Linked DNA regions of Homo sapiens: region 1 is linked to region 2. The links come from fine-mapping of genetic effects on gene expression. A gene starts in region 2. The other region holds a variant in brackets. All regions are shown on one strand. Distances are between the middles of the regions. Region 1 has its middle 63 kb from the start of P2RY1. Region 2 holds the start of P2RY1 (purinergic receptor P2Y1).

Region 1 (5,528 bases), 63 kb after region 2:
AGGCCAAGTAAGGGTTGTTTAAGTAAAGTAGTTGTGGACTATACCCAAGTACAAAATGTTTAAGAGGGGATGGAAAGTGAGGAAGCTAGACATTGAGAGCAGATTATTTGAAGAACTATGGTCTGGAGGTATGAGAAGAGAAAGGTGCTAGCTGGAGATTCTAAAGAAGTGTTTCTTTTTCTTTTTGAGATGGAAGAGACTTGAGTGGGTTCATAGGCAAGCAACAAGGAGCCAGGACTTAGAATGAGAGATGGAGATAGATGGTCTGGAATTTTTCTGAAGAGATAGGAAGAGATTAGACTAAGAACACAAGTGGTAGGGTTTACCACCAGTGAGTGAGGTCATGGCTTCCCTTCCTCTGAGCCAGGCGGTAGTGGAGACAGATACCTAAGTTTTTAGGTAAGAAGGGAAAAGTAAGGCTGATTCTATATGGCAGTTTCAATTTCCTCTATGAAGGATAAGGCTGGGAGGGAGGTGGTACTGAAATAGAAAGGGCTCAAATGCTTTTTGAAAAGGAGGAGATTTAAAATGGAGATGTGGTCCGAGAATGGAAAATTGAAGTTTAGGATTTCAGAGTTTCCTAATGATGAAAATGGAAGAGCACACAGTAAGTCAGTAGATAAAGAAAGCAGGAGGCATTCATTAATGGCTTGTTCACATGGCCACGAAGCCTCTTTAAGATTCTGAAATCAGCATGGAGGAATCAGCATGGAGGAAAACCTTGAGGCAGACCTAAAGCCCTCAGTGATTGTGAGATTGTGACCAAGCTGAAGAAGAAGAGTAAGACAGGGCTCAAACTGATGGTAGGAGTCTCAAACATAAGTTTCTGCTGGAGGATAAGCAAATAATTGCCTGCCAACAGCAGTGGGTAGCTGGGAGAGTACAATCCTCTTCTGCATACTTTGGAAAATTCAGACATTAAGAAGAAATGGCAAAGCTTCCTTGAGAGGATTGCAAAGAAAGTTGTGCTTTTTAGGCAGAGCCAGGTTTCAGTTAATAATGATTATGATAATAATAACAATGTTTTTTGACACTTACTTTCTAGGTACTGCTCCAAGTTTTTTTTGTTTGTTCATTTATGAGATGGAGTCTTGCTGTGTCGCCCAGGCTGGAGTGCAGTGGTGCGATCTCGCGTCACTGCAACCTCCGCCTCCTGGGTTCAAGCAAGTCTCCTGCCTCAGCCTCACAAACAGCTGGGACTACAGACATGTGCCACCTTGCTTTCCATTATACCTTCTGCAGTTTACTTAATTCATCCATATAAAAATACTTGGAGCATTTTTATATTTATTAACTTATTTATGGCAAGCAGGCAGAGAAGAGGGTCTGTGAAGAAGCTGAGAATGTAAAGGGGTTGTCTCTGATGAATTAAGTAAACTCCAGAAGGTATAATGGAAAGAATGACAAGGTTAGCAAGGGAAGGCAAGAGAAACAAGAGAGCATTGTGATAATTACAGTATTAGTTGTCTTGAGCACTTCACCATGGAAAGGGTTTTCCATGGCCAAATAGGGGAATCCTATTTTCTCACAAACACCACTGGTGTACTCCCAAGGAGAGTATATATATATATATATATATATATATATATATATATATATATATATATATATATATAAAACAAGGACCAAGAAAATAACTAAAATGATATCATTTACAACTAACTTAGTATAAAAATACTTGGAGCATTTTTATATTTATTAACTTATTTATGGCAAGCAGGCAGAGAACGTGGTCTTTGAAGAAGCTGAGAATGTAAAGCGATTGTCTCTGATGAATTAAGTCAACTCCAGAAGGTATAATGGAAAGAATGACAAGGTTAGCAATGGAAGGCAAGAGAAACAAGAGAGCATTGTGATAATTGCAATATTAGTTGTCCTGAGCACTTCACCATGGAAAGGGTTTTCCATGGCCAAATAGAGGAATCCTATTTTCTCACAAACGCCACTGGAGTACTCCCAAGGAGAGTATATGTAGATAACAAGGACCAAGAAAATAACTAAAATGACATCATTTATAACTAACTTAGGTTTCATCAGTAAATTACTAAAGCTTATGTGCAACCACTACTATTTGTGAAACAGGATGAATAAATGAGCCATAATGGCTCATTTTTGACTAAGGTTTAAAACCCAGACTAAAAGGAAACCAAGGCCATCTACTTAAGTCTTTCCCTTAGGCATACACTGTCTTCTCTTTAAAAATGTATTACAAACTTGGAGCCCATGAGCCAAATATGGGTTGTGTTTTAATCTGTAAACTATTTTTTATTTGAATTAATTCTCAAACTTAAGAAACAGGGGCTTTTGCATGTGAAAGAAAAGAAGGATAGAAAGAAGGAAAGAAGTTCAAATA[T/C]AGCAAAAATTGGCTATGTTGAGTAGGAGCTAGGGTGGCCAATTTTCATCTCATTTTTTCCTGGGAGTTTTCCAGTTTTAGCACTGAGAGTCCTACTTCCTGAAAAACCCCTCAGTTATAGGCAAACCAGGATGGTTGGACATCTTAGGAGCAGGTACTCTTTTTAGATTGACACATTGTGCTTTGGGGTTCACCAGAATTGCCACCAAGCCAGCATTAATTATCTGGCTAGCCCTTGTGGGTCTCTGAGTTTTCTAGATTTTGGCCTATCACTTGAGGGGCTTATTAACAACTAATTTAGTCCTCCCACTCCAAGGCAATACCCACCAGCATGGAAGTGACTGACCTACTTAAAGAATCTTAGGGGAACACAGAAAAAAAAAAGAAATCCACATAGGTGAATGCTTATAGAAGGTGAACACTCATAGGCCAACCACAAAGTTTGTCAGCTTCTATCCCATGCATTCTTTGTGCTCTAAGGCCCAAGCTCAATAATAGCTTACTTTGATTCCTTGGTTTCTTGTGAGTGGACCTAGTTAGACACTTAGCCTTGGTTTCCCTATTGTGGTTGGAATCTACTTATATATATCTGGACTGGTTGAGTCTGGTGGCAGTGAGAAAGAAAAAAACGAGAGACACAGATGCAATTAATTGGTTTTCCTTCGAAAATTTTCCTTCAAAATCTGAGTCTGAAGAATCAGCTTGAAGAGAGAGGACCCAGGGACTATGGTGCTGAGGCTGCCATAGATTGCAGCTCAGTATGTTGTTGCTGTTGGTGTTGGTCTGACTGCACAGTGCTCCAAGACCTGCCACAAAAGATGCCAGCCTTGGCTTATGAGCCTCAAAAAGAACAGAAAATATGATATGTTAATATTCCAGGAACACCCAGTCCTGGGTAGTCCAAGAAATTCATGGAAGCTACAAACTCTGTATCTTGACTGATCAGTGATTTCGTCCCAGTCAATTACCATTTTTAAAACATATAAATAAATACTGCACAATGACCTATTATATAGCAAATATCATATATCCAGAATCGTTTGATGTGAAAATCTGGGCTGTTATTAAATACATTAAATGTTACAGTATTTCAATTGAACAGAGGTCCTCCAGGGTTAAGAAATGTGTGATATTTTAAAGATACCTCAGAACTTTCTCTGAAGTATAAGTGTGAGTGCTACTTATTAATAATAAAGTCTTATCAATTTTATAAGTAATAATTCAGATTAAACAACAGTTGCTACAGGTAAAGTCAAAATATCAAGGGGAGTGGTAATGAAATATTAATAGTAGTGTGCAAATGTTGGCATGGCTAGGTAATTGCTGTAATACGCCCTCCTGCTTCCCTAATTCAAAGATCTTGAGAAAGCAGGCTTGGCTGTGTTTATTACCCATAGCCCTCCAGCTGTCAGCAAGTCTCCCTGGGCACTTCCAAGACACCTGCCACTTTGGCACCAATGCTGAAGCACTAGACATCGGTTTTTTTGTTAGGAAAGAAACTGAGATGCCATAGTTTTATAGAGGATTTATTAAGGCTAAGCAGGTGGTTTACTCTATCAAGGGAACACATGAGAGGATAATATAGGAAAACAGAATGAATAGTCAGACTTATTCCATAAAAAGGAAAATTTTTCTTTCTTTCTTTCTTTTTCTTTTTCTTTTCTTTTTTTTTTTTTTTTTTTTTGAGATGGAGCCTCACTCTGTCACACAGGCTGGAGTGCAGTGGTGCAATCTCAGCTCACTGCAACCTCCGCCTCCCAGGTTCAGGTGATTCTCCTACCTCAGCCTCCCAAGTAGCTGGGACTACAGGCAAGTACCACCATGCCCAGCTAATTTTTTGCATTTTTAATATAGATGGGGTTTCACCATGTTGGCTAGGTTGGTCTCGAACTCCTGACCTCAGGTGATTCACCCGCCTCGGCCTCCCAAAGTGCTGGGATTACAGGTGTAAGCCACTGCACCCAGCCCCATATCTTTCTTAAAGCAGATTATCACCTAAGCAAATGACAGGTAATATATTAATATTTGTTGAATTAATATATTAAATAAATTATTAAACCTTTGGTCAAGTTTTAAGTTTCTGGAACCAATAATGGCTTTAATAATTAAACTAGTTTGAGGGATGAAAAAGCTAGAGTTGGTAGAGCTGTCTTATTGGAACAATTAGTTTTCTGCTTTCTGTCATAACAAAAAGTCTAGTCACTAAATTTATTGTTCTTATAATATATTCAAAGTACACACTTTTCTCTTTAATATTAATTTGCTAATTTAATATCTAGTATTGGTTGTGCTTTCCTTCAGTATTTCCTCATTTCTTATAATGCCAATATTGTTAATGGGCGATGAAGACTACATGAAATAGCATCAAAATGACACTAACTAGTAGAATAAATAGAAAATGGAGTAGATGAGACTCAATAGAAATTACCTTAATAAATAGAATGTCACCTTAATAAATAGGAAGTAAATCTAGGAAGAATAGCACTGAGAAAAGAGTCTAGGATTAAGTGACTGGGAAAAATATAGTTTAATCAGTGGTACTAAAATATATCTGTCCAATCCATGTCCCATTCTTGCTGGCAGCAACAGGCCCTTCCACTTGCACTGGTGGCACTTAGGAGGTCTGGTGTCCCTTGGCCCTCCATCCAGTGGCAGAAGGTAACTCAGGGCCACTATCTTCAGGCCCACCATCCAATACAGAGAGCCATCCAGACTCAGTGATTTCCAGCTCTCCACCCAACAGCAGAATAAAACCTAGGCCAGGCATTTCCTGGCTCTCTACCCAATGACAGAAGGCAATCAAATCCTGTGTTTTCTTGCCCTCCACCTGGCAACAGAAAATGATCTAGGATAGCCTTCCACTCAACAGCAAAAGGCAACCCAGAACCCACAGCTCCAGGTACTCCTGGCCCTGCACCCAGTGATAGAAGGCATCCTAGACAGGTGCTTTTGTCTCCCAGTGGCACTGTTGAGATAGAGTAGAAAGCCTGCCAGAACTGGATGGCTACAGGATGGGCCAGGAGTATTGCTCTCCATCTCTGAGGCCAATATGGAAAGGAATCAGATTTTGGAGATTGATGAAAACTATTTTAAAGCAGCCACCATAAAATTGTTTCAATGAGAAATCAAAACTCCCTGGAAACAAATGAAAAATAAAAAATCTTGCAAAGAAATC
Region 2 (5,000 bases):
AATGCAAAAGCAATGCTTACAAAGTTTGTTTATTTATTTATTTATTTATTTATTTATTTTGAGACGGAGTCTCACTCTGTCGCCCAGGCTGGAGTGCAGTGGCTCGATCTCAGCTCACTGCAAGCTCCGCCTTCTGTGTTCACACCATTCTTCTGCCTCAGCCTCCCGAGTAGCTGGGACTACAGGTGCCCGCCACCACACCCGGCTAATTTTTTGTATTTTTAGTACAGAGGGGGTTTCACCGTGTTAGCCAGGATGGTCTCCATCTCCTGACCTCGTGATCTGCCCACCTCGGCCTCCTAAAGTGTTGGGATTACAGGCGTGAGCCACAGCGCCCAGCCCAAAATTTATTTTTTAACATCATTTTTTAAAAAGTCTGTGGTGCACTTAAAACAACTATCCCCCAATTCCTAGTAAGGTGTCAGTTTTCTGCAAGTACTTAATGGTATCTGGACTAAGTGTACATTTCAAAACACTCACATTATGAGTTAATGCATTTGCAACAAACTTCTGAGTGAAGTCAGATATTGCCTAGGTTGCAAATAAAAAATGCAAAGGAGTGAGGACTTAAGACCTATTGAGTACCCCTGGAACCCTTAATGGTTTTCTTTGCTTCCTTTTCTCTCTTAATAGACAATCATCCCACCTAGGACCATACTAATCAAACAATACACAAATGTTTCATGTTAAGGCTCAGAATCATAGACTCATATAATCAGGAGATTGGAAGGAAACACAAAAAGTAAGACTTTTCAAGACAACCTCATTCACACTGTTTACTTGAATTATTTACTCTTGTTTTATTATTAATTTTTATGCTGTTCAATTGACTACAATTCAAAACCCAGTGTATTCATACCATGTGCTAAGATATGCTCCTTCCTATATGTGTTCCTCTAAAGAACCATCTGGATCTTGTGGGGGATATTTTCCTTTGTGGTATCAAAGCCAGGAGCTCGTGGTTTTCCTTTATTTTTTAAGGGAACACTATCATGTAGCATCTGGGACCAGAAAGAAATCTTGATGTTATATATTTTACAGATATTTTCTTTTTGGATTTTTTTTCCTCTAAGAGAAAAGCTTTTGTTAATGTGTCATGTAAAAATACATTAACTAGTAACTTGTCAAGAAGTGCTAGATTCCATTCTTGTGCGGGTCCATTTATATATGTTCCTGAACAGCTAATATTTCATTTAGTTTCCAATTAAACTTGCTCAAATACATTTTTGAAGTGCATTGCTTAAAATTTACATTCAAGGCAAGAAAACGAGTTTGTCAGTAAATGTAGTAATTAAGGAAGTCCCAAGTCTGTATTTTTAAGATACTAGAGGTAATTGTAACTAATCACTTTAACTTAAAGAAATAGAATTGGAAATACCCCCCTCCCCCCGCCACCCCCTACCAAAACCATACCTTAGTCACTTTGGAATTATAACCGTCTTTTACGTCTATCAATATAAATGTATTGCATTTGGCATTCAAATTACTTTCAAAGGGATAAATTTCGAATTTTTTTTTTTCATTGTAGCTTCTGATCTTTAAATGTACTGAACAGGAGGATTTGGGGAGCTTGTCTTGTCTGATAGGTGTTAAGTATCTATGACGACAAATTTGAGCTGAAGCAATGTGCAATATGGACTAGTAATATCTTCACAAGACTATTTTGGAAATTCTCACGTTGATGTTATTAATGACGTGGGTTTATTAGCATTTGGGTAATTAAGAAAAAACAGTACTAGAATTTAAAAAAAAGAAAAAAAAAGGTAAGAAGGGCGAAACAGAGTTCTCCACTCCTCTCCCAACCCTCATTCCTTTGGAGGCTCGCGCCCTCTTGGAATAGCAGGTTCCTGCATGTGCCAGAAATCCGGTCCCGGCAAAGCTAGACGCTCTGCAATGACAGGCGTTCCCAGCTAGGGACTCCTGGCTGCTTGGAGCTTGAAAACACCTGGCGTGGTTCTCGAGGGCCCTAGAGGCTCCTGCTACGGACTGGTCGGCTCTGGGGTTGTAGGCAGAAGGCTCTAAGCGGTCGGAAGGGTTTCCTGTGTGTCAGCAACTTCACTTTGCCGAGATAGCTGGCGGAAGAGGGAAGGAGCGCTCGCGGGCCAATCGCCTGCCAGCAGCCACCTTGGAGCGCACCCCTCTCCCTCGCCGCCGACTCCGGTAGCAGCGTGCCGGCAGAGGCTGAACACACTCGGCCTCGGCGGAGACCTGCTCCCCAGAAGACGCCTCCTGCTTCCCACTGCGCCCTGGAGGACGCGGGCTGGCTGCTGGGCGAGCTCGGCGGAGGCACGCCCCTCGCCTCCCCGCGGAGTGCGGACTCGCCCCGGTGCCCAAACTCCGCCCACCCTCTAGGGAGCTCCGCTCTCCCGCCTAACCCCGGCACTCCGGACAGAGCTGGGCCTGGGGAAGGGGTTCCTGAACTACGCGGACGCCGAACGGGACGCGCTGCAGAAGCGCACGAGTCTGCGGCCACGCGCGCTCCGATGGCTGCCAGGAGCTGAGCTCAGGGTGGGCGGAGGAAGCGGTTAGACGCCCCGAAACTGAGCTGCACGTTTCTAAGGTAGGGAGGAGGAAGATGCCCCCAATTAAGTTGATCTTTGAGCCAAGGAGGCTGGGGAGCAGCCTCCCCAAGCTAGAGCCCTGCAGAGCGAGTTTCCCTTGACCTCGCTGCGCCTCTGGCGCGCTCTGCAGCGCGGACCCGCGGCCCCTCGGGAAAGCGCAGTCGGAAAGTTATCCGCGGCGGTTCCCTGCGCGCCCTGTTGTGTAAGCTCGGCGTTGCCAGCGGACGGAGAAGTTGCTGGCTTGCCCGATAGCCCAGTTCGGTGGCGGCCCGGGGCGGATTTCATGGCCCGCGGCGAACGCGGGGCCAGAGCTGGCGTGGGCGAGCCCCTGCGCGCCCCCTCCCGCGGGGATCCAGTTCGCCTGCTCCCTTCCGCTCGCTGGCTTTTCCGATGCTTGCTGCGCCCCTGGCCGCCGCTGCCCTCTCGCCGCCTCCTACCCCTCGGAGCCGCCGCCTAAGTCGAGGAGGAGAGAATGACCGAGGTGCTGTGGCCGGCTGTCCCCAACGGGACGGACGCTGCCTTCCTGGCCGGTCCGGGTTCGTCCTGGGGGAACAGCACGGTCGCCTCCACTGCCGCCGTCTCCTCGTCGTTCAAATGCGCCTTGACCAAGACGGGCTTCCAGTTTTACTACCTGCCGGCTGTCTACATCTTGGTATTCATCATCGGCTTCCTGGGCAACAGCGTGGCCATCTGGATGTTCGTCTTCCACATGAAGCCCTGGAGCGGCATCTCCGTGTACATGTTCAATTTGGCTCTGGCCGACTTCTTGTACGTGCTGACTCTGCCAGCCCTGATCTTCTACTACTTCAATAAAACAGACTGGATCTTCGGGGATGCCATGTGTAAACTGCAGAGGTTCATCTTTCATGTGAACCTCTATGGCAGCATCTTGTTTCTGACATGCATCAGTGCCCACCGGTACAGCGGTGTGGTGTACCCCCTCAAGTCCCTGGGCCGGCTCAAAAAGAAGAATGCGATCTGTATCAGCGTGCTGGTGTGGCTCATTGTGGTGGTGGCGATCTCCCCCATCCTCTTCTACTCAGGTACCGGGGTCCGCAAAAACAAAACCATCACCTGTTACGACACCACCTCAGACGAGTACCTGCGAAGTTATTTCATCTACAGCATGTGCACGACCGTGGCCATGTTCTGTGTCCCCTTGGTGCTGATTCTGGGCTGTTACGGATTAATTGTGAGAGCTTTGATTTACAAAGATCTGGACAACTCTCCTCTGAGGAGAAAATCGATTTACCTGGTAATCATTGTACTGACTGTTTTTGCTGTGTCTTACATCCCTTTCCATGTGATGAAAACGATGAACTTGAGGGCCCGGCTTGATTTTCAGACCCCAGCAATGTGTGCTTTCAATGACAGGGTTTATGCCACGTATCAGGTGACAAGAGGTCTAGCAAGTCTCAACAGTTGTGTGGACCCCATTCTCTATTTCTTGGCGGGAGATACTTTCAGAAGGAGACTCTCCCGAGCCACAAGGAAAGCTTCTAGAAGAAGTGAGGCAAATTTGCAATCCAAGAGTGAAGACATGACCCTCAATATTTTACCTGAGTTCAAGCAGAATGGAGATACAAGCCTGTGAAGGCACAAGAATCTCCAAACACCTCTCTGTTGTAATATGGTAGGATGCTTAACAGAATCAAGTACTTTTCCCCTCTTTAACTTTCTAGTTTAGAAAAAAATCAAACCAAGAAAATAGTGAGTTAAAAAAATAATAGAAGTAGAAATGCCCACATCCACACTTAGCTTGTTTGGGTTTGCTTTCACAGTCTCTCTTCCTTCTGACTAGAAGTATGTATAATAAAACAATACTACCTAGTTAAACATTTACTTTCTCTTTTGCCTTTAAAATGTGCAGGCTTTTCTGTTTAAAGTGTGTGTGCACATGAGTACTGGGGCTGTTTTTGATATTAGTAATTTCTCTAAGAAAACTAGCCCCCTGCAACTTGAGTTTGTGGTTTATCTAGCCTTTATTGTTTTTTTAAAATCCACAGTAGGAATAAAAAATCTATATTCTCAGAAATATCTAGCATGGTATATAACAAAACACTAAACTCATCAGTTCATCCGGCATCAGATCAATGGATCTCTGAGCGGGGTGTTTTTTTCAGTGTCTTATAAGCATAGATGATAGTTGACTGAGTTTCTTTAGGGCATTGAATAGACAAGTAAAGCTAATGAATTTAAAAGCCTGAAAAGTGATTGTTTTCCAGTTATTTCTGGAAAAGGTCTCATTATATATTGGGTGCTAAATGTTTGATGGGGAAAGCCTGCATATATTATCGTACTGGTAAAATGCATTCAAAATAATTAAAGTGCATGTATTTTCCTTGTAAACACCATGAGCTCTCTTAGACATCTTGTGATAAAGAGCATTTACTTGCCCCACTGCTGTGCAATGCCTTAGGACTTTGTTTGTGTTCCAGG

The links. PIP is the estimated chance that this variant, and not a neighbour inherited with it, causes the effect. A credible set is the group of variants that fine-mapping cannot tell apart.
Region 1: its variant is the best candidate, but not a certain one, in a credible set for the expression of P2RY1 in whole blood (TOPMed, PIP 0.76).

Annotation. Positions count from the first base shown.
Region 1 is chr3:152,895,726-152,901,253 of GRCh38, forward strand. No RefSeq gene overlaps it. Among named protein-coding and RNA genes, the nearest start is that of P2RY1, 63 kb to the left of the region's middle. The variant T/C (reference allele first, on the strand shown) is at 2,354.
Region 2 is chr3:152,832,750-152,837,749 of GRCh38, forward strand. P2RY1 (purinergic receptor P2Y1) reads left to right here and starts at 2,382. Exons shown (of 1, transcript NM_002563.5): 1 at 2,382-5,000. The coding sequence starts at 3,034. The coding sequence ends at 4,155. RefSeq lists silencers at 2,289-2,338, 3,051-3,345 and an enhancer at 2,519-2,618.